Linked DNA regions of Homo sapiens. The protein of the gene in region 5 interacts with the protein of the main gene of each other region in a pairwise test. Each region holds a gene or a part of one and is shown on either strand. Other genes may lie near its edges. The genes, in order: CD300C, STX6, CCDC167, SERP2, FAM210B, CYP4F2 and TIMM23.

The links.
Region 1: the proteins of FAM210B (region 5) and CD300C interact in binary tests that used the Homo sapiens proteins (3 or more experiments, as listed by UniProt).
Region 2: the proteins of FAM210B (region 5) and STX6 interact in binary tests that used the Homo sapiens proteins (3 or more experiments, as listed by UniProt).
Region 3: the proteins of FAM210B (region 5) and CCDC167 interact in binary tests that used the Homo sapiens proteins (3 or more experiments, as listed by UniProt).
Region 4: the proteins of FAM210B (region 5) and SERP2 interact in binary tests that used the Homo sapiens proteins (3 or more experiments, as listed by UniProt).
Region 6: the proteins of FAM210B (region 5) and CYP4F2 interact in binary tests that used the Homo sapiens proteins (3 or more experiments, as listed by UniProt).
Region 7: the proteins of FAM210B (region 5) and TIMM23 interact in binary tests that used the Homo sapiens proteins (3 or more experiments, as listed by UniProt).

The regions. Positions count from the first base shown.
Region 1 is NC_000017.11:74,540,573-74,543,115, forward strand, and holds the end of CD300C (CMRF35-like molecule 6 precursor), read right to left. Parts: intron 2,416-2,543; coding exon 2,289-2,415; intron 1,165-2,288; coding exon 1,017-1,164; 3' UTR 501-1,016; downstream 1-500.
Region 2 is NC_000001.11:180,984,871-180,988,370, forward strand, and holds part of STX6 (syntaxin-6), read right to left. Parts: intron 3,476-3,500; coding exon 3,369-3,475; intron 1-3,368. UniProt on the Homo sapiens protein: SNARE promoting movement of transport vesicles to target membranes. Targets endosomes to the trans-Golgi network, and may therefore function in retrograde trafficking.
Region 3 is NC_000006.12:37,493,394-37,496,893, reverse strand, and holds part of CCDC167 (coiled-coil domain-containing protein 167), read left to right. Parts: intron 1-3,500.
Region 4 is NC_000013.11:44,394,324-44,397,823, reverse strand, and holds the end of SERP2 (stress-associated endoplasmic reticulum protein 2), read right to left. Parts: intron 553-3,500; coding exon 512-552; 3' UTR 110-511; downstream 1-109. UniProt on the Homo sapiens protein: Interacts with target proteins during their translocation into the lumen of the endoplasmic reticulum. Protects unfolded target proteins against degradation during ER stress. May facilitate glycosylation of target proteins after termination of ER stress.
Region 5 is NC_000020.11:56,365,474-56,368,973, reverse strand, and holds the end of FAM210B (protein FAM210B, mitochondrial), read right to left. Parts: intron 2,904-3,500; coding exon 2,687-2,903; 3' UTR 311-2,686; downstream 1-310. UniProt on the Homo sapiens protein: Plays a role in erythroid differentiation. Involved in cell proliferation and tumor cell growth suppression. Involved in the metabolic reprogramming of cancer cells in a PDK4-dependent manner.
Region 6 is NC_000019.10:15,891,575-15,895,074, reverse strand, and holds part of CYP4F2 (cytochrome P450 4F2 precursor), read left to right. Parts: intron 1-2,492; coding exon 2,493-2,546; intron 2,547-2,638; coding exon 2,639-2,766; intron 2,767-3,500. UniProt on the Homo sapiens protein: A cytochrome P450 monooxygenase involved in the metabolism of various endogenous substrates, including fatty acids, eicosanoids and vitamins.
Region 7 is NC_000010.11:45,982,489-45,985,988, forward strand, and holds part of TIMM23 (mitochondrial import inner membrane translocase subunit Tim23), read left to right. Parts: intron 1-34; coding exon 35-128; intron 129-357; coding exon 358-442; intron 443-2,119; exon of another isoform or gene 2,120-2,323; intron 2,324-2,894; coding exon 2,895-2,953; intron 2,954-3,500. UniProt on the Homo sapiens protein: Essential component of the TIM23 complex, a complex that mediates the translocation of transit peptide-containing proteins across the mitochondrial inner membrane.

The DNA.
Region 1 (2,543 bases), on a different chromosome or scaffold from region 5:
ACCAGGAGGACTCATGGGAATCATCTGCCTCACAGGGGTCTTGGGTGTTGGCCAGGTCATCATGGCGACCCTGGAACTGAAATGGTGGGCAAATGATAACATCTTTCGTCTGTATAGACAGACATGGTCTACACTACTGAGCAAAAGACTCACTTAACTACCACATCAAGGAGTCATAGCCCTCCATCCGTTTCCAAATTTGCACCAGTTAAAACCCACAGCCCTGGAATGAAGGAGAGGTCAGGTCCCCTTGAAGAAGGAGGAAGGGTAGGCCTGGTTATGCTACCACAGTTCACACTGAGAATCTTCTACCAGCTCTCCCAGAGGGACCTAAAGACACTGGCCAGGATGTGTCTACCTGAAGGAGGGAATAGTCAGGCTTTGGGGGAAATTCTGGATCCTTTTCTGCAGGGACCCCCATTCCGAGAGGCCTAACATGGGGCTTGGTCCACTATTCTCAGCAAAGGCCTGTGGAAATCAGGGAACAATGGATTTCTCACTCAGGTCTGACTGAGTGGGCCTGATACATCCCAAACCTACACATTGTCATTTATTAAAGTTTGAAAGCATCATTGAATCGACACACTCAGCAAATGGAAGCAGCCGCATATTCTACACTCCTGGACCCAGGGAGTGTGGGCCATTATGGTGGCAAAGGTGCAGGGGAGTCCTAGACCTGCTTCTCCCTGTGAAAACGGTGGAGGAAGCAGTGCCAGGCTCCTGGAGAAATGGAAGGGTGCAGGGAGGGCATCCGGGCACTCAGAGGTATTGCTGACGGCCCGAGGCTTAGCTGGCCGGGGCGTGCACATGAGACGTGGACTCACAGCTCAGGGCGTCCATGTCCGTCAGGTTCACATGTGACACATGAGGATCGGGCACAGGGAAAAGGCTGAAGGAGGCTCACAAAGGATTCCAGGAGATGTGGAGAGAGCAGCCCGGGAGGGAGTGGTCAGGAGGTCATTCCAGTCCCCCAGAGGGGCTCTGTTGCAGCACAGGGCCTTGATGGACAGCAGATGCTACTGGTTCTCACCCTTGGGCCAATTCTGCCTGCTTCTAGAGCTTCTCTGAGGTCTGTTCACCCAGAGGACGGCACCCAGCATGCTCAGGAGCAGGGGCAGCTCCAAGAGGACCAGGAGCAGGAAGCGGACATTGCTGAACAGGGAGCTGTGGGGACACGGTGACAGGCAGTGAGTCACCTCCCCAGGGGAGGCCCAGGTGCCCTCCACCATCCCCTGACCCTTGTGTCCCAATCCTGTGACCACAGCCAACCACATAAGCACCCCCCTGGACAGTCCATCCCGTCTCAGCATCACGGCCCCTAACCCTCAGCCTCGGATTTACCCTTGACCTGAGGACTGTGACACAGGAAGGGCAGGACCATGAGAGGACGTGAGGTCACGCCAGGGATCCAGGCAGGGTCTGTGTCCAGGACGCAGCTGTCTACCTCTGTGCTCCCCATGGAGGGTTACCCAGCTGGGGTCCCGGAATTCACAAAGGGTTATTTGTTTGGTGTCAACTCTCCTGTACACAGCGTTTCCAGGAGGGCAGGGACCATTTGTTTCATTCACAGTGAGTACCTGCTGCCTACCCGGAGTCTCCAATAATCTGCCCTACAACTTCAGTGGTTGTTGAAGGAATTAATGAATGGACAGCTCAGCTCTCAGCTCCTCAGAGGACTGGGCTTATCAAACAGGATGAAACTCTGGCCAGGGCTGCGAGAGAGGCAGGGGAGAGGACCAGGGCCACCGGACCCCAGAGCATCTGCCCCCTTCCCTGGCCTGGCCAGGTCCCAAGGCTCCTCGCAGGACATTTGCCTCACTCCTCCCTCCACCTGGACCCTTCTTCCTCCAGACCCCAGAGTGCCCAGCCCCCAACCCTTGAGGTCTCTGTGCTCATGTCCTCTAATTCTCAAACCCTCTTCTGATCATCGTCAGTGAAATAGCAACTCCAACACCTGCACACGCTCTCCCCAAACCCAAGAGTCAAACATCTCATCCCAGCATTCATTACCCTTTGCTGTATTTGTACATCAGCCTCTGTGCTGACTTGCTCAATGCGTGAATCCACGCAGTAGAACTCAACTTCCACCAGGGCAGGACAGTGGCTGTGTGGTTCCCTGCTGTGACCCAATCCCAAAAGGAGCGCCTGACACTTAATAGAACCTTCACGTTTGGTGTGGGAGGTGCGAACAAAGAAGGGACTGGAAGAAGGGACATCCGAGTCCCCTAAACATCACACGCAGTGGGGAGGCCGCCAGCGTGGCCCAGTCCTATGCGCAGGCACCTTACCCAGGGTGTGGGCTGGGTTCGGGGCTGTCCTTTCTGGTCACGCTGGGCCAGGTGTGCACGGGCAGCTTCGTGGGAGGACCTGAGGTGCCCATGGAGCTCTGGGGGCTGGAGGCTGTGGTCGTCCCGGCTGTGGGTGAAACACAGGTCAACCTTGATGACATCACATGGGTCTCCCACTTACTCTCACCTGTTCTGCTCCAATTTTCACAGACAAGGTCACCAATGATGTGCTGGACAGATGCCCTGCATCCATCA
Region 2 (3,500 bases), on a different chromosome or scaffold from region 5:
AATAGGCAACACTGGGTTTCAGGACCTCACTCTGTTATCCAAAATCCTTGGGACAAGATAGGATTTTGATTTTGGAATTCTCAGGATTAAAAAAAGCCTAAATTACATATCCTTTGTATTAGTCGACACCACTAGGAGGACACCACCAGGAGGGTCTGGGGCAGTCCCCGTAATCAGATACTTAATATTTCTGCAGAGAAAACTATGAGGAATCACAGTTGGAGTCAGTTCAGGTAAGGTTTTTCTGTAACATGAGCTTGCGGCAAATTTAAAGAAAAAAAAAACAACGAGATTTCTTTAGAGCTTCCTAGATTTCAGAACTGCAAGACTATAGACCTGTCTATACAATAACACAAACTCAGTGGCAGTGCAATGTGGTAGAAACAATGCTATCTGAGGCAGACAACCAGGCTTTGCCACTTGTTTACATTGCTACCTTCGACAACATACTCTATAACTCTTTGGGACTGTTTCCTCACCTGTAAAATAGGGCAATCCTATCAGCTCAACTTCCCTCACAGGGCTCTTGTGAGAACCAGGTAATAAACAAAAGCACTTTATGTCAATATGAGTTAAGGAATGTACTTTAATAAAATAACCTCCTATAAGGCACTACGTGCTTTATTATAAACCCAGAAGGCCTCAGGACTAACATCCCTGATGGGGTGTGTGACAGTGTGTCTGTGCATGCACACGCGCATTTCCCCATCTGTCCTCACAGAGAAACCAGTATTTCCCACTAGGAAAACTGACTCCAGCAGGCTTACACTATTTGCTGTCCAATGTGCAGCTGGGAAAGAAAACCCCAAAATACTATTTCAGCAGTGCCTATTTCATAAGTCACTAAATATTCCAGACTTTTCAACTTTTGATTAGTAAATGATTATTCTGAGGCTAGAATGTAATATGCCAATTAGTACTAACAGTCTTACTAAAAAGGCTGTATTAACTCTGACAGCATCAATGGCAGTTAGAAACTCCTGGTCTTGATCTGTGCCCACAATAGACACCTGACAGCCTTGCAGGATTCAGGGCAACCAACTCTTCATTAAATCAACTGTTACATATATGTTGACAACTAAAATAAGTCTTTGTCCCTTACCTAAATTTTCAAATTAAAAAATATTTAACTCATTTTAGATCCTGGCAGCATCTTGGCGCTGCAGCTGGCAGGCCTATCCAGGCAGGGCCAAACTCTAAAAAGCAAGAGCTACCTTTCTGCGCTAGGTATGACTTTTCATACTGAAGACAAAACAGGCACATCATCAGGCACATCATCCGACCTTCAGTCCATGGACACTCACCAACCAAGTTGCTAGCCCAAATCTATCTCAGTACCATCCAACAAAAATATGAGTCACATATGCCATTTTACATTTTCTAGTAGCCATGTTTGTAAAAATTTCAAAAGAAACAGGTGAAATTAATTCTGTTGTATTTAGTTTAATATAGCCAAAATACTGTAATTTCAACATGTAATATAAAAATTATTAATAAGCTATTTTATATTTTTCTATATGAAGTCTTCAAAATCCAGTAAGCATTTTACCTCTGGAGCACATCTCAATTCAGACTGGCCACATAACACTTACTCAACAGCCACATGTGGCTAGTAGCTATTATACTGGATGGCACAGGTCTAAGTCCAAATCCCATGCTTTTTCCCATTTATCTGTTATTTCTATTTTTTTAGAGACAGGGTCTCCTCTGTCACCCAGGTTGGAGTACAGTGGTGCCATCATAGCTCACTGCAGCCTCAAACACCTGGGCTCAAACAATCCTCCCACCTCAGCCTCCTTCCCTAGTACTTGGGACTACAGGTGTGAACCACCATGCCCAGCGGTTTCATGCCCTTAAAAACAAACCCCTTTACTATTGTTCTAGTGAGCTGTGGAGAGGGAGTGGAGGTAGGGGTGTGTCAATGCACCATCTTTAACTGGAAGTCCCTCTGACTCTATTACCCACTGCCCAGCCAGGCTGCCTCATCAACAGAGAAGCTCAGGCCATTAGTCCTTTCCCCTCCTCAAACTGAACTTTAGGGTCAGGACCCATTTTAGATAGACATGAAACAGATTCTGGCTACTCCAGCTTCCTACCTGGTCTCCCTACCTGACTCCACTGCAGCACATCATCTAAATCACACCTGATCACACCATCACTCCTCACCTCACCTCCACTGGTCTCTCATTATGCTGAGAATAAGTAGTCGTACCTCCTTACCATGCTGACAAGGCCTTCCCTGGTTTGTTCTCTGCCTCCAGACACATGGAACCTCTCTGCTCCATGCACGTGTGCACCTCTCCATCTTCACAGGTGCATTTTCTTCCTCCTGGTCTACACACCCCACACCACCTGCCTCCACACCAACTCTCACCTCACCTGGCTAGCATCCACACATCCTTCAGATTTCAGTTAAACCCCTCTTCCTCAGGGACCTTGGGCTAAGTCAGGGCTCTCCAGGCAGCATGCACTGGCCCCATCACAGGGGCCCTCCCACTTCACTGCCATCACCTAATGACCCCTCGCCACTTACCCAATATCCGTTCTACCCTGCAAGCGGCAAACTCTTTGGCAGAGATGGGTTGTCTTGTCTGCTCTGTTCCCTTCTATATCCCTTGGCTTCCAGAAGGCCCGGTGTAGAACACGGGCCCACTAAGAATTCATAATCAATCAATGTGTCATGATAAACGTAATATCGAGACAGGAAAGTTTCTGAAATATCCTGGTGGACTGTTTTTTCATTTTTCTCTTTCAAAAGATTTACAAAATGATGTGGCAGCATTTAAGAATGCAGTTTTTGCCATCGAACTTCTGGGTGCAAAAGGGATTGTTCATAAGGAAAAACAAACTGAGGTTATGTTTTGTTTTTATTTATTTTTCTGAGAGGAAAGAGTTTTTATTAACTGGCGTTAAATTTGTAAGTTTTTTTTAAAAAAAAAAAACAAAGTTACAATAATTTAAGATTCAAAGCAAAACGTGTCTGTTCAATATAGCAGGAGAGTCATGGGATGATAAAGTCAGCTCATGTCCTATCCTCTCTGGAACAAAAATTCCCACAGGTTACAGAGGCTTCTCTGTTTCATATTCCCATTCATAACTATACTTCGAGTATCTGCTCAGAGACATCTGTGTCTGTTTTTGGAGGTGTTTAAAAATAATAACAACTTCACCTAAAGCCTGTAGTAAAATTTACGAAGTAGAATTGCTTCTTTTGGGGAGGCTAATCTGTAAAACAGAATAAAAATGCAGCTATGAATAAAATAGCTTTTGATTTTACCAGCCACGTAGCTGCCAGGCTTTTTAGGGGTGTCATAGGATGGCTCTGCCCCTCAATTTCACTGAAGCGAGAGGGGTGTCTCAATACTCACACTGCCTGTTCCTCCAGCTCCCCTCCGATGCGCTGGGACATGTTCTTCAGCACCCCGATGCTGCCAGAGACCAGCTCCAACTGCTCATCCTGCTGTTCCACGATCAACTGGTGCCAGAGAAATGGGAAATAA
Region 3 (3,500 bases), on a different chromosome or scaffold from region 5:
CCACTTTCCATTGGCAAGAACTAAAACCCCACCTGACTGCAAGGGATCAGGGAAATGCGTTCACCAGTCAGGAGGCCACATAGCCAGCTACTGTTTGCTTACTATGGAGGAAGAGACCAGTGTGTTTTCACAGACAGCCTGTAGTCTCACTACAGATGGCACCTCACCTCACAGTGTGGTTGTGAGGATTAAATGAGACATTGCGTTAAGTGCCCAGCACGTGCCTGGCACCGGATTGGTAATCAATACATGGTAGCTCCAGCCTTTGTATTTCTTTTGCATCCTTCCACCATGGCTAAGTCAAACTCGTTCTTGGGCATTCGTTCACTCATCTATAACATGAAGGACTTGAATTTCACCAGGGGTTACAAACTCCTTGACTATGGCCCAAATACAGATCACAGATGTCTTCTGTTTGGCTGACAGACTTTTAAGTTTTTATTTTATTTTATTTTATTTTTAGACAGGGTCTTGCTCTGTTGCCCAGGCTGTAGTGCAGCGGCATGATCTCAGCTCACTGCAGCCTCCAGCCTCCCGGGTTCAAGCAATTCTCGTGCCTTAGCCTCCCGAGAAGCTGAGACTACAGGCGTGCACCACCATGCCCAGCTAAGTTTTGTATTTTTAGTAGAGACGGGGTTTCACCATGTTGGCCAGCTGGTCTTGAACTCCTGACCTCAAGTGATCCGCCCGCCTCGGCCTCCCAAAGTGCTGGGATTACAGGCGTGAGCCACCACACTCGGCCGGATTTTTACGTTTTTAAACTTGGTGGGGCATGTATTCTCCAAGTGCCTTATACTGGGGCAGATTCCATTGTTTTACCCTCTCCATACCACGGTAGATGTTTATATTTGCTATCTTGGTCCCTAAGTTTACTTTTTGCTTGGATATTCGAAGATTTGACATCTGTAACCGTGTGCCTTGGAAAAAGCCTGACATCTGGCTGGCTGTCTCCCCACCTTGCTTCTCAGTTGCCCCCAGCGGGTCTGAGTATTGAATGTGCACTGATGCTCAGTAGCAGTAGATATTGTCCTCTTATTAAAAGTTGTGTGCTCAGAGCCAATGAAGTGGTGATTTAATCAAAAATGTTTGTTAATCTGACGAGTGCAATAAAACCCCCACAAGTGAGTGATCTCAGCACCTGCAAACAGTCTCCACTTGTAATGAAGCAATTACCAAGCAGGCAGCACTCACCCTTAGGGCTGGCTTGGGCCAGCTGTATAAGCAGCCACCTCTTAGGACAACCAGGGCACCCTCTAGCCTCCCCCTCAAAGTGGTTCCTTTTGAGGTCTTTTTATCCAATTCATTTGCCACCATATGAGATCTCAGAGTTGGAAAAAACTGTGAGTTTTAGCTTCTGAGATTTCATTCTTAATAAGAAAAGAAAATTATAGTTCAAATGAGAAATCACCCACCCAGTACTGATTTTAATGTTGTGTGGGAGGAAGGAAAGGTTGAATTTCAGTCTAAACTGATAGGAGAATTTTGACTGATGTAAAACCTGTTTGTGTTTTCGGATCTCTGATGGTAATGAGCTGTTCCTTTGTCATTGCACTTTTCTTTTGTAGCTGGACTGTTCAAACTGGTGTCTTTAGATGTTTCAGTGACCAGTTGGTCTTGAGTTAACAGATGTGTGGTGTCTTAGCCGGTATCCTAAAGTGGATAACTTGGTTGGATCTGACCCCTAGTACAGAAAGTTTATCAGTTTGGAAAGCTTTTGGCTACAAGTTATAGAAAACTGACCTCAATGATTTAAGCAAATGGGAGTAGACTTTTCCCCTTATAGAAATTTGTAGGGGCCAGGTGCAGTGGCTCACGCCTGTAATCCCAGTATTTTGGGAGGCTGAGGCAGGTGCATCATTTGAGGTCAGGAGTTCGAGACCAGCCTGACCAACATGGTGAAACACCATCTCTACTAAAAATACAAAAATTAGCCAGGAGTGGTGGTACACGCCTGTAATCCCAGCTACTCGGGAGGCTGAGGCAGGAGAATTGCTTGAACCCAGGAGGTGGAGGTTGCAGTGAGCCAAGATCGTGCCACTGCACTCCAGTCTGGGCAACAGAGACCCCGTCTCAAAAAAAAAAAAAAAATTTGTAGGTAGGTGGCTACTGGCATTGGTTCAAAAGCTTAGCTATGTCAGAGTTGGTATTTCTGCATTCTCTTCACTGTTTCCTCATGGTCACAATATAGCTGCCACAGCTCCAGTCTAATATTCAACTTTAACTCAGGAAGGAGGAGGAAGGAACAACACTGTCCCTTTTATCAACAAAGCATAAGCTTCCCCAGGAGTCTCCTAGCTGACTTCTGGAACGTCTCATTGGCCAGAACTGGGTCATGAGCAAGCCTAGCTGCAGTGAGGTTGGGAGAGCATCTGCTGAGCTTTTCCACCTTCTGGAGTAGAGGTGGGCAAAGGAGCAGGGGTGGGGAGTCGGTGTTGTGTTGGCCAGTTGACAGTATCTGCTGTAAGGAATAAATGCTAATGGGAGTCATTGAAAATTCACTGGAATCCTTACCAGAAAAAGAGGGCAGGATCGGCTGGGTGCGGTGGCTCACGCCTGTAATCCCAACACTTTGGGAGGCCCAGGCGGGCGGATCACCTGAGGTCACGAGTTCGAGACCAGCCTGACCAACGTGGAGAAACCCCATCTACTAAAAATACAAAATTAGCCAGGCATGGGGGTACATGCCTGTAATCCCAGCTACTCGGGAGGCTGAGGCAGGAGAATCGCTTGAACCTGGGAGGTGGAGGTTGCGGTGAGCCGAGATGGTGCCATCGCACTCTAGCCTGGGCAACAAGAGGGAAACTTCGTCTCAAAAAAAAAAAAAAAAAAAAAAAAAAGGCAGGATCACTGACCATGAGAAGTGGTAGGCTGAGGGGAGAGAATGGCCTAGGCCAGGAAGAGCACCGGAAGGCTTGACGCTTGTGGTTATTTGTATGGTGCCAGCCACTGCAGTAGCCTCCGTGGGGCAGGGCAGGCAGAAGCACCAAGTGTGGCTGAAGACGGTCTCCGCTCTGGAGCAGGCTGTGCACAGGGCTCAGGGGAACCTCCCACTTTCCTGAGACAAGGGCTAGGAGCAGGTGAGTGGACTGTCAATAAATATTTGCTGAACTGGCTCGATTGGCAGGAGGAGGCATTGAACCTTCCACCCTGACGTCTGGGCCCAGTTGAGTGGAGGTCACAGTAGAGCAGGCGGTTAGACGCCACCTTGCTGGGACCCTGAACCCCAAGCCAGGGGCTGGGAGAAAGGCTCGCAGCACGCAGAGGACTGTTCAGGGGCCGCTGACCATTAAATGAGCCTCACCTGCTGCCAGGCGAGAGCGACAGGTCGCCATTGGGCAGGTGATTTCTCGCGGCAGCCTACATCTGGCTCTGCGCCACTTGACGGGGGTCAGGAGACTAAAACCTCATTACCTAGCGCGGCTGGATGGCGGCGTGTGTGGAGTGGCTGTCTGCCAGCATCTTAATTAATGAATTCATAAGGCTCGGGGTGGATGCCAGTT
Region 4 (3,500 bases), on a different chromosome or scaffold from region 5:
CCTGCGCCTCCTCCAACTGCATAACCAAATCTCCCCACCTCCCAACTTTCCTTGAGCTATTCTGCTGTTTTCTTCACTTTAGTTTTCTCACTGTAACCCACACATGGTATAAGGTTGAACGAAGACATTTATTTGTAAAATCAATTCTCAATGGAGGAGAGATTGTATCCATAGAAAGTAAACCAGTGATCGTTCAGAGGGCCACATGCACGCATTAGTGAAACCAAGGGAAAAACCAAAAAAACAGCACTGCTGCGGACGACCCGCGTGGCTACTAATCCTGCCAACAGAAAAGCAAAATGTCCTTTCCGCTTGAGAACGCGGATGCACCAAGATGTCCTGTGAGAAGGCAATTTGGTCTGACATCCACGATGAAGTGATCAGGGAACAAGTGGGGGAGCGTTTTTTTCTATTCCGTGTGGCCTGCTTGTTTCCCGCAGAAACTGGCTGACCGCTTCCGTTGTCCTCCCGCCTCCAGTGGGAGGGAGGTGGTGTCAAATCCCTGGCTTTCTCACATGCCCATCCTTATGCTCTGAATGATCTGAAAGATAGCTGAAAAGAGGAAAACACCACAGCTCAGACACCAGACTGCACACAGCTGGAAACCCAGCCCACAGTGAGCCCGGCTTCTGCAGACCCCTGGGCCCTGACGTGTTAGCTCACAGCTGATTAGATATTTCCTAACAAGGAGTTAAGTTAACAAGAGGTCAGTGAACTTCTTTAAAAAGGCAGCCTCGCTCAGTCGGCTGATGGATGCCTCAGGGATTTATAGATAACTCCTGCTAATTCCACCAGCAGTTAAGGCCAGAAATCCCTCAGGCACTGAGAAGAGATTTGGCCCCCTTCCCCAGCAAAGTTCTGGGGCTGCCTGGGAGAGGGATATGGGCTTTCGTGCAGAAACTGCACTCATTAAACAGGTCAGTGAGTCTGCCTTTTCAAAATGGCTGTGACCTGTAAAACAATGAGCCCTGTGCTGGGAAGGCCGACCAGGTGCTCGGAGCAGCCCACGGGGCCCGGCCTCTGTCTGCCTAGAACCCTCCATGCGTGAGTATCTTCCAGCTGCTTGGAACTCTCTGAAAGGCGGCTGTCTCTTATGGAGAGCGGCACTTATTTATTCAGGGCTCAACCTTTAATAACTGGAGTTGTCAAGGGGGTGGGTAGCTTGTAAGCCCACAGAGAACTCCTGGGACCCTTGCCCATGTGGATGAGAGCTGGTTACATAGCTTCAGCCTGCTTCCAGCTATTGGGTTTCAAATGTGTCCCAGGAGCGGAAGATCCCAACTTCTTTTTCACATCTTCCCCAGTGAGCAACCGTGGTCAGTGTTGACAAAGATGATGGTAATGATAAGAGTAACTACCATGTATTGAATGGCTTTTTTTTTTTTTTTTTGAAGGAGGGTGGGTATCATCTCATCTAACCATGTGTAAAAACAGAATAAACACTGAGCTCTCAGGGGTCTTACCCCTTCTCGCCTTCTTAAAGTCATCCTGGAATACATCCAGGATCCACGGTAAAACAGAGTTATCCAGAACCCTAGGAAACCAGCCATTCAAGTTTCATCATCTGGCATCAATGAGCACATCCTATGTGTCAGACACTGCGCTTCAAGGATAGAAAGAGAAATGATGGACAGGGCCTTGGGGAATCGTTCTTGGACAGCTGGGTTTTAAGAGTAGACAAACATGAATGCATTTTTTGGCTTTTTTTCCCCGTAAAAACACTGTACCCATCATCACTACCTTTCTAAATTGGAGATACCAACATATTTCAATGCTAACTTTTCATGAGTGTTCAGTGTCACCATAATGAAAACCAGTAACTGATGAGACGTGCTGTGATCTCATTACAGAGGAGGCTGCGTGTGATCTGACACTGAAATGCTTCTGGTCAGCTGCACTTCTGGGCTCCCATTTCTGCTTCTGATCATTTTTTGGGTCTCTTTCTTCTCATCTCTGGTCACATCTCTTGTATTACTACACCAATCTGCAGTGGGTCCTGTACTATTATTTTGTTGCCGTAGACTAAGCTGAAAACAGAAACTGTTAGAATTACGAGTCAAATCAGAGTCAATCAGCTCCATGTGAGTGTCAGGGACTCATCTGTAGATATGGTGAAGGTGTTGGTCCAACAACTTGTGATATTTAATTCTGGATGTGCTCAGATATTTTCTTAGCTAAGTTTGGGTTCTTGGGTGGGTCTTTTTTTTTTTTTTTTTTTTTGAGACGGAGTCTTCCTCTGTCGCCCAGGTTGGAGTGCAGTGGTGCGATCTCGGCTCACTGCAAGCTCCGCCTCCCCGGTTCACGCCATTCTCCTGCCTCAGGCTCCCGAGTAGCTGGGACTACAGGTGCCCGCTACCATGCCCGGCTAATTTTTTGTATTTTTAGTAGAGACGGGATTTCACCGTGTTAGCCAGAATGGTCTCGATCTCCTGACCTCGTGATCCACCCACCTCAGCCTCCCAAAGTCCTGGGATTATAGGCGTGAGCCACCGTGCCCGGCCTTGGGTGGGTCTTAACAGGAGCAGTTGGAAGAGAAAGTACCCTACAACAATTTATAAGCTTGCAGAAATATCTGATGTTTCTTTCCTCCCCACCAAGGCTCACAAGGAGTAAAAATTAAATAAACATTCTGTATTCTGGCTCAATAGGAATGTCAGGAGGCAGCTGTATATTCAACATTAGGAAAAAAAAGATTACTTCTACCATGCCTCAGACTTTGTTCTTGTGATCAGGGAACTATCGCTAATCCTGACGAACAAGTTGACTTTAGAGCAGAAAGTTAGGATCAGATGGAATTGGGTTGAATATCAGCTCTTTGCTGAAAAGCTGTGTGACTGGACAAATAATTAATCTCTTAGAGGCTGCTTCCTGTTCTGTAAAATGAGGATCATGGCCTTTGCAGGGCTGTCACAGGGATTAAACCATATGACATATAGGAAGGGTCCTCACACATGGAGGACTCACTGCCTGGTAGCTACTGCTATCATCACTGTTACTATGACTACAACAACTGCTGCTTCTCCCTGTCCCAGCATGCAGACCAGTGCTTAGCACTATCTGCCAGCCTACAAAGCTGTGAACTTTGGGAAATTACTACACAGTTCTGAGCCCTGCTTTCTCTACCTATAAAACTGTGGATAATAGGTACCTCAAAGGATGGCAAGGAATAAATACGATGACATAAGTAGATGCTCAAAAATATTACTTCTCGCTTACTCTTGCCCTTAGACAAAAACTTATCAGCAGGATGTAAGTCAACAAATAGGAAACCATCTGTGTCTTAGTCCATGTAGCCCCCATATTAAGTTAATTCATAACTTCAAAAGTTCGAGGTAATAATAAGAAACCATGCAATTCTTTTTGAAGGAACTGTTACAAATCTCTTTAAAGAATCTAAGACAGTCCAGGTGCGGTGGCTCATGCCTGTAATCTCAGCACTTTGGGAGGCCAAGGTGGGCAGATCATGAGGTCAAGAGATTGAGACCATCCTGGCCAACATG
Region 5 (3,500 bases):
TAGTCTTGAGCTGAACTGACTTTGACCTTCCCAAATAGTTCATGTGCCACCCTCCCAAGCTATAGTTATTATCACGTGACTGACTTTCCCAGTGACACCAGTGAGACTTGGGACGTTTCCCCAGACAATCCCACACAAGCAAAGAAAAAGCTCATTGTAGTAGCACATTAATACACTGGTCACAGTGCCACTTCATCATCAGCAACAACCATGGCTTACCAGAAGGAATATAAAAAAGTTCATAAACTATAAAGATGTTTCACAGAATTTAAGCTGCTCACTTTGTCAGATAAATTAGAGAAACAATGGCTTTCATTTTTAAAATAGATGTTTTATTCTGCTAGTTCCATAAAAACAATGTAAACACAGGCGTTCTGTACATCTTGCTGGTGAATTCACATAATGCTTAGTTCCCTGATCCTTTGACCTCCTTGTCTTCTCCGGTTATTTTCTGTTTGGACCCCTGGCCACAGGAGTGGAGTGGGGTTGGGGCTTAGGAGAGAGCAATGTGGCTTTTTGGTATGATTTGTTTTATTGCTTGCCCGCTCAGCACGCTCCTGTTACTCCTAACAAAGTTTGAGATTTAAGCCCTTAAACCTGTAGGTTTCACCATCAGTTTTTCTTTTTTTTCTTTTTTTTTTTTTGCATAGGCATTACTAGGGACATAAATGGGAGACTGGCATAGAAAGTGGTGAGGAGCCGAAGCCAAGGAATTGCTTTAAACACAAGATGAAAATACTCTGTTCTGTCCAAAGCATCACCTAATGGTGTGAGGCATCTCACTTAGCTGTGGAGAAGTCCTTGGAATTAGATCTCAGAAAGACAGCTTTAAGACAGTAAAACCTTTTGGCAATGGGCTAATTGCCTTAAAAGAAGAGTTCTACCTGAAAGACCTTGCAGGTGGAGAAATTGTCCTACAAAGATTCTTGGATATGTTAGTGGAGATAACTGACATGGGTAGCTGTGGGTCAACCAGGAACTGTCAACAACCTGATCTCTGCAAAACCAGGATGGCCAGTTAATGGTTTATTCAGTTCTCTGATGGTCACAAATGTAATTTTATTTAGCCTTGTGGAGGTTCTGCAACAAATGTAATTTTAAAGGAATTAGGAGCCAGAAAGATAAATGCAACTCCTTCAACTACGTGACAGGGCAGACTGGTGAATCTGGGTTCCCAGAGTGTGGAGCAAGTGCCCTGCATCAGAGAATGGCCCAGGGGGAACGTGCATGATGCTGAACCCCGCAGGACAGAATTACTTCAATCGCCTGCTCCTGACTACTATAAGGACGAAGCCTCAGTGTCTCAGTTTGGATCTACGCTGGGATTTCTTTCTTTTGGAGACAGTGTCTCCCTCTGTCGCCCAGGCTGGAGTGCAGTGGTGTGATCTTGGCTCACTGCAACCTCCACCTCCTGGGTTCAAGCAATGCTGCCTCAGCCTCCCCAGTAGCTGGGACTACAGGCGTGTGCCACCACACCCGGCTAATTTTTGTATTTGTAGTAGAGACGGGGTTTCATCATGTTGGCCAGGCTGGTCTCGAACTCCTGGCCTCAAGTGACACGCCTGCCTCAACCTCCCAAAGTGCTGGGATTACAGGCGTGAGCCACCGCACCTGGCCTCTATGCTCGAATTTCTACTCTTAGCTAATCTCTCTAACACATATGCCCTTCATTGGGTAAAGCTGGCTCAGCAGACTAATTACACCTGTCATGTAATACAAGCCTCTCCCTGGCTTGTATTATCTCATGGTTGCCTTCTATTTGTGACAAGTGCTATGAATATTCCTTTTTAAGAAGTGATACAAAATCTTTTTTTTTCTTGAACAGGATTTTTAACTCAGACAGTGTAAACATCATGACAATTCTGGAATGTCTGAAGTTTGAGATAGAAGATTGTCTAAGAAAAGCTGAGATTGTCTTAGCTGTTTGTGGTATCCGAATTCCTCTGGAACATGGGCATCAGGAACCAAGCGATGCCACTGCTACTGGGCAGGGTTTTTATATTTTACCTAAACAGAGACAAATGACGCTGACCTACCTTAATGAAATTTCAGAAAAACCATCTGGAATCAGCCCCATCATGTCCAGATTGGAAGGTATCTGGGGATCAATGAAACATACCAGAACTACTTTTCTTCCCCCAAACCAATGTAATGAATGTCAAAGTATTGATGCTAATTTAGATTGTGATTACATATTAAGTTTTGCTTCATTAATTGTAGCACTGGCAGCTGTTTTGTGAACGCTGCATATTAAACTGTAGGCAGCTGACAACAAATATCAGCGGAAGGGGATATTTAAAAGCCAGTTAAATTAATCAATGCTTTTTAGGAAACTGAGCCAAGATTAACCCCCTGGTGCTTTTACCCACAGACCCTCGCCAAAGTCTCCCACAAGGAACATTTGTAGGCTATTTTGTTTTGAGATGTTAACCCATCTCCGATGCCTTGCTGACATTTTAGATTATATATACAAGCCCTATAATGAATAGCATTCACAAAATTTATGAGGCAAAAAATTAAAATTGTTCAAAAGCCTGATTTTTGCTGGCAAAGTTTATCCATGAGAACATAGCAATTAGCCCCCTACCTCTCCAAAAGAAACCCTACAACCCTAAAACCCTAAAACCAATCCAAATCATGTAATTTAGAAGAAATAGGTTTTCAGTGTGTACGACTGAAGAGTTCATTAAGGTTTTGCAGCTGGAGGTTTAAAAAATCCCACTTTTCGAAAATATCTGACAATCAAGGGCACAGAGACTAGCGTAATGCTGATTCTCACTGGCGCAAACAGCTTGTGGATTGCATAGGCCACCACGAAGGTACTTGTGCCTGCTGCCATTTTTGACTGTACCAGGGACTCTTTAAATCCGAGTTTCAGCAGGATTGCAGGCATGTCCACACCACTAGGGGGGAAGAAGCAAAGAAAACAATTATTACAGCAAGGGATTAAATGAAGAAATTGATTTGGCTATAAGATTTACAGTATTTTAAAAAATGTAATGAAGTAGCTGAATGAATAAAAGTCTTAGTGGCCAGGTGCAGTGGCTCACGCCTGTAATCCTAGCACTTTGGGAGGCCGAGGTGGGAGGATCGCTTGAGCTCAGGAGTTCAAGACCAGCCTGGGCAGCATAGCAAGACTCTTGTCTCAACACAACAAAAAAACATACAATCGGCCTGACGCGGGGGCTCACACCTGTAATCTCAGCACTTTGGGAGGCCGAGGGGGCGGATCACTAGGTCAAGAGATTGAGACCATCCTGGCCAACAGGGTGAAACCCTGGCTCTACTAAAAAGACAAAAATTAGCCAGGCTTGGTGGCATGCGACTGTAGTCCCAGCTACTCGGGAGGCTGAGGCAGGAGAACCACTTGAACCCGGGAGGCAGAGCTTGCAGTGAGCCGAGATCACGCCACTGCACTCCAGTCTGGCAACAGAGCGAGAGTCCGTCCCCCAAAACAAACAAACAAACAAATCAGCTGGGTGCAGTGGTGCATGCCTGTA
Region 6 (3,500 bases), on a different chromosome or scaffold from region 5:
GTTTGAAAGGAGAGTGCAGGGTGAGGCAATTGGACATCGTTAGTATTCAAGGCCCCTTGCCAGGCCTAGCATCACCTTGCCTGTCCCAAAGCCTAGAACAATGAGGAGGACTTGTGGCTGGTGGGGGATCTGGGCTGCTACTTCCATGATGTCCACCTCTGGTGGGTCAATTCCCTTTACCCCATCCTATAGCTTGTCTGCCCTAAGTTCGTTGCTCTCCTGCTGCAGGTCCCGGGGATCTCCAAGAGGAGACTCCACCCCAGCTTGGGTCCCTTTCCTTGACCCCTGTGCTTCCCATCGTTGGACGGGCGAGGCTGAGCAGGGGGAATGGGCAGCATCCTACAGAGACCATGGCTCTGACCTCAAAATGCTGAGTGACTCTGGGCTGGTACCCAGCTGTCTCTGGTTATTGAAGTCTCTTTCAGTTGTGAGTGGTGGAAACCCAACCTGGTGTGGTCTAAGCAAAGAAAGATAATCTATTGACTTTAAAGTCCAGGGAGGGTGGCCTTCAGGCATGGCTGGATCCAGGTCTCACACAAGGTCACTGGAAATCTGTCTTTCTCTCTTGGCTTTAGCTTTCTCCATGTCGCTTTTCCTATCAAGGTGGCCTTTTCCTCATGATGTCAACGATGAGTCCCAGAAGCTCAGTTCTTATGGGAAAGGCCACCTTTCCCCTAGAGTTCCCAGAAATGGCCCATGGTTTACTTCTCCTGGCCTGGATCACAGGACCAATTTTTCACCCAATCCCTGTGTCTCTGATTGCCCAGTCTTGGTAGGCCTGGGTCTTCCAGAGCTACTGTTTTGGGGGCACAAAGAAGTTTGTTGGTTAAGGATTCAGGCCATGGGTGCAGACAGACCTAGTCTTAGGCCTCAGGCTTGCCGTGGTCTGGGACTGTGGGCAAGTGACTTTATTGTTCAGAGCCTCAGGCTCTTCATCTGGAAAATGGGATGAATGAGAGCCCAGGGAACATGGTGTGTGGATCCACATGGGGAAAGACCTTTTCTGTCTGTGTAACTGAAGGACTGGAGAGTCCTGCATGGAGGATGTGAGGAGGCAGGGGGTGCTCAGCACTGACAGGAGGATGAGATGCTGCTTGAAATTCTCAGGGAGAGGGCTTCGACCTCTTCCCTGCAGATCCTTCTCTCTCACAGCCTAGGAGAGCATGAATTGGGTCCTGTGTGTTTTTCTCCAGATTCACAGCTCAGAAGAAGGTCTCCTATACACACAAAGCCTGGCGTGCACCTTTGGGGATATGGGCTGCTGGTGGGTGGGGCCCTGGCAGGCAGTCATCCACATCTTTCTCCCCACGTGCATCAAGCCTGTGCTCTTTGCTCCAGGTAGACATCGCACTGGCCAAGCTTTGCCCACAGCTGGGGTTGCTGTGCTGCCTCCAGCTGAACACGTGACCGATGTGCAGACAGGAGGGGCTGTGGTGGAGATGCCATTGCCTCCATCGCCCCTGGACTTCCACCTGTCTAACCTCTGTTGCTGTTTGCTCATGTCTGGGGCGTGTCTCTACAATGGCTGTTATATGGCCAGGTCTGCCTTGTATATTTACACCTGGGTCCTGGTTACACCTGAAATATGTTATACCTGGTTACATCTGGTATATAATTCCAACTGGGGTCATGTAGAGCTGGTCAAGTTTGGGGCTTATCTGTGGCCAAGGACATTTGGGGCATGTGAGGGCCTGTTTGGTTCTTGTCTCAGGTGCTGTTTGACACTGCCGTTTTCTCCTGGTGGTCCAAACATCTGGGCGTTGTGTGAGGTCTGGGGGTTGTGTGAGGTCTGGGACCCAGGGTCCCTATGTGAACTGTCTGAGACATTATTTGAGTCTTGTCTGAGGCATGTGTTATAGTATATTTGGGTCATGCCTGAGGAACAGTCTGGTTCACATGTTGGCTATGTCTGTGACATTAAAGGTACCATATTTATATTCAACCCAGAGCCTGTATGTGGAACACGCTTTTAAGATCATGTTAGACCATCTCATGTGCATGTTAGAGCACACCATCTCATGTTAGGAATTGTCATGTATTTTGTGGCCATGTCAGGACATGTGAACACATGTCAGGGTCATGTCTCATGTCCAGGTCCATGTCAGAAGATGCCATATCAGAAGATGTCAGAGAGTGCTGGGACAGACAGGGTGTCCTAGGTCCTTGTGAAGCATTCTGTAGAATGCTGAGCTGTGCTCAGGGGTTGCGGAACATGTTGGATCGTGTAGGAGGCATGTCAAGGCATGCTGGAACCCTGACATAGCTCCTACACGCCATGTTAGGCAGTGTCATTGCTGTACTGTGCTGCTGTAGCCTGGTCTGGTCTTCCCTCCCCTCCCCATCCTCCCTTCTTCCTCTGCCCTTGGCCCTCTTCCTGCTATGTGGGGCTCAGAGTGGGAGAAGTGCAAACCTCTTGCTGGGAGCCTCCACCCACCCCCAAAGTCCCTCTTTCACCTGCCTCCATGGCCCCTGATTGTCCTCATTTATGTCAGCTGCCATTGCACCAAAGGACAAGTTCTTCTACAGCTTCCTGGAGCCCTGGCTGGGTGAGTATCTGCAGGTGAACAGGGTTGGGAAAAACGTTGGGGGGCCAGGGGAGGGAGAGGTCCTTGCCCATGGCCCTTGGCTGCCCTGCTAGGGGATGGGCTCCTGCTGAGTGCTGGTGACAAGTGGAGCCGCCACCGTCGGATGCTGACGCCTGCCTTCCATTTCAACATCCTGAAGCCCTATATGAAGATTTTCAATGAGAGTGTGAACATCATGCACGTGAGTTATTTGAAGCCAAGGTCCCACTTGCAGCCTTGGGGTGAAAGGACAACAGAGAGATCTAGTCTGGAGTTTTGGCTCTGCTGGGTGCCATTGGGCCATTGCTCTTTCTCACTGAGCCTTGGTTTCCTCATCTGTAAAATGGGGATAATAATCCCTACTTAAAAGATGGTCAGAGTAATGTAATGGAGTCACGTCTCTGGTGCATAGCAGGTGCCCAGAAGGTGTCTGTTTCTATGTTTCCATCACCAAAGCCCTGTAAACACAAGAGGGTCATGACAACAATTTCATAGTAGCTGTTGCTGATAAGAAACCACCTGAAAACTCATTGGTTTAAACCAATAAGTGTTTATGTTTGCTAATAAGTCTTTGGGACAGTTGGCAGGTTCTTCTGTATATGGAAGGGACCACTCATGGTACATGAGCAGCTGGGGGTCAGGTAGGCAGCCTTGCAGGTGTTGACTGAATTCTGCCACATGTTTGGGTTTTGGCTGGGACATGTTTGGGTTCTCTCACGTGTCTAGGTTTGGCCTCATCTGGGACCCCTGGATGTTCCTCCCTATGATTGTCTCCTTCCAGAAGGCGCGCCATGGTTCACAATGCAGGCAGGGTTCCAAGGAGTAAGACAAGGCTTAGCTTCGTTAGTTATTAACTCATCATTTTCACCACATTGTATTTTGACATCGAAAGCCAAAAGTCCAACACAGAATCAAAGGCAGGGGGATAAAATAGGC
Region 7 (3,500 bases), on a different chromosome or scaffold from region 5:
ACACTCAGCTTGGTTTTCATTATTATCCTTTTAGGATACAGATGAGTTTATTTTACCTACCGGAGCTAATAAAACCCGGGGCAGATTTGAGCTGGCCTTCTTTACGATTGGAGGATGTTGCATGACAGGTGAGTGTTACATACTTTTTTCTCAAGAGTGCTCAGTTCAAGTAGTTGAGGGTGCGTAAAATCAAAAGCAATTAGAATGTTGGTTTCAGGGTTTTTTTTTTAATATTTACATTTGTCTTTTTCTATTAAATAAAAATGAAAAAGAATCAGAAGTGTAGTTATGCAGATTTGAGTTTGTTTTTTTAATATAAAGCTGTCTTTATCTGGGTGAATTGTTATGATTTACCAGGGGCTGCGTTTGGTGCAATGAATGGTCTTCGGCTAGGATTGAAGGAAACCCAGAACATGGCCTGGTCCAAACCAAGAAATGTACAGTAAGTCTCTTGTAACCATCTGATGTAGTGATACTTGAATATTAAGCTCTGTTGTATTGGTTTGATGAGTACAACCTTGAGATTACAGATGGTTAGCATAGTTATGTGCTTTTTTGTCTTTGTTTTTTAATCTTAATCAAAATAAAAGCAACTAAGGAATCAGATTACTGACTCTAAGCTTTTAAAAAGGAGTGATTTTTTTAATCAGTGTCCCTCAGTCAGCTAGTGCTATGCCAGCCTGACTTCTCAGCTGCACCTGTTACATTCTCCAACCCTATGTGACTTGCTTTTCAAATTGTTGAGTTGCTAATGGGAATTTTGGATTGTTTGGGGGCATGCAGATCCATAGGAAATGGTAATGAAGAATAAGCAGCTCATGAGAGTGATGGCTCAAGCTGCCATCATTTAACTTGAAGTTCTTACTGTCTTGACTTTATGTTTCCGAAATGATGAGCCAGATACATTTTAAATAAAATTTTTAGAATTAGAGTTAATTCCAAAAGGATAAGACACAGTTTTCTGTTAGAACTTGAAGTTACAGAGAAGGGAAAGTACAGTTAAAAGGATCGGAAAGTATGTTTTCACCCAACTTAAGAAGTAAACATGGCCAGTCCCTCTTGATATTCCTTAAACAATATGTTTAGTTTTGCCCATTTTTATGCTTCATGTAAGTGGAATCATGAGTATGTATTCTTCGATGGCTACTGTTTTGTTTTAGGACACTTTAAACTCCATCTTCCTTTCATATTGTTCAGCCAGCAGATGGCACCAGATGTGCTAGAATTAGACCATGGGAAACTGGAAGGCCTGTTAAATTGTGTGGTTTTTTGAGAGACAGGGCCTTGCTGTGTTGCCTGAGCTGGAGTGCAATGGCGCCATCACAGCTCACTGTAGCCTTGACCTCCTGGGCTCAAGTGATCCTCCCACCTCAGCCTCCCGAGTAGCTGGGACTACAGGCACATGCCACCATGCCCAGTTAATTTTTTAATTTTTTGTAGAGACGGGGTCTCACTGTATTGCTCAGGCTGTTCTCAAACTCCTGAGCTCAGGTGATCCTCTTGCCTCAGCCTTCCAAACTGCTGGGATTACAGATGTGAGCCACTGCGCCTAGCCCTGTTAAGTTTTTTATATTCCTGTTACTGTGTGGATCTCTGTCCATGCTTTACCAGCCTAGATCCTTCAATATTTTTATTACTTGTCCCTCGCTTCAATAATATTTTTAAGTTTTTGTATTATGGGGAATTTTGAATATATAAAAGTAGACAAAATACATAGCATAGTGAACACATGAACCATAACGCATCCTCAACAACCATCAACCATGGCCAGTTCTATCCCATTTCCTTCTCCTCTCCCATCTTATTTTGAGACAAAAACCCCAATATCATATTAAATACAAATTTGGAAGTAGATCTCCTAGAAAAGACAACTTGCTTCCTTTCTTAAAACAAGTTATTAAAATGCTTGTTAAAAATGAAAAAATGATGGCTGAACTTAAAATATGTTAGTAAATATGTAACATAATTAGAAACAATATACTTCTGTTTGTAAACATTACTGATTTTTTAAAACAATCTTTTAGAAAATACAAATTTTTGTTTCTGTAGAACATTAATTGAGTCGTTTAATAATTAAACTGAATGAGTTCCTTCACTCTTTGTTACTGTATTTCCATAATTTCCAGCAGTAGTCAGCTGTCTGGACAGAACCATTCCTGGGATCATGTTACACTGCTGGGAGAAGAATGTCTTCTCTTCATCCAGTTGCGTCCATCACTGTTCTGGTGGTGTCTGGCACTGGTGCAAGGCAGAACTGTGCTTCCTTGAGAGTGTGCTGAGCATTCACCTTGGCTGCTTGGTTCTAGTCTAGGAGCAGACACAGGGTGCTTTCCCCATGTATTCTAGTTAGATGGCTGATTCCTTCTCTTTAATTCTACTTTATATTCTGTACTTTGATATTCTTTACTTTATATTCTGTACTTTGATATTCTTTACTTTGATTATCTTTAACATTCTAAGCATATGTTCCCCTCCCAAAAAGAACCTTTTAGAAGCTAGCTCGCCATAGTTAACAGTGGCATTTTTTACATAGATTAGTTTCTGTAAACCTCTGTAAGATACATTCCAGGCTGTCATTCAAAGCCTTATATATATTTAATGTGTATTCATTATATTATACATTTAATAATAAGAGTTTTCCTTATTATTATTATTAAGGACTTATATAAAAGTCCTTAAGACTTTTGCCTAAAGTTTTGAAAGTTTTAACCTAATTTTCACTTATGTAGAGTAAAAACCATCCTTATTGAAATCGGAGATATTAAGATGTATTTTAGAATTTAAAAAACTTTGCGCCCTGGGTCTAGACATGTTAAATAGCCATTATTGTTTTTAAAGGTTACTAGAGAAATAATGATTCTAAATACAGATTCTTTCTCTTTCTGCCCTGATAGGATTTTGAATATGGTGACTAGGCAAGGGGCACTTTGGGCTAATACTCTAGGTTCTCTGGGTAAGTAGAGATCTCATTTGATAATAAATTGTTAAAGAAAGAATGCACAAATATCATGAACAATTTGATCAACCCATATTCTGGTCCTAGGATATGAGACAATTATGTTTAAACCCATTCCAATGCATAATGTAGATACTACTTAGGGAAAGACCATGAACTAACTTATGAAATAATCTCAGGTGCTAATACCGTTCTGAATACCATTGCTGAATTTTTAAAATCTTTTGGACACTGCACACTCTCCTTTCCAAGCACAACACCCAATAAAATCATGTTTAAATGAAATCCAGGTAATTTAGGTCCAAAGTAAAGAGCTTTGTATGTTAGGCAAGGTTCAAGGTCCTGTAGTGATACATGATAAATTAATCCAGCCCTCTTGCTATGTTTTCTTAATAGCCGGTTCATTAGTCTGTTTACCTGAGTAGATTTCAGGCACCTAATTGCCACAATTGGAATAGGTTCCTTGTAGATAATGAAAACGTTTGCAGTTCTAGGCAAAAGGTAACTTAGTAGTGCTTAGTCAGAGCCTTATGCTTTCATACCA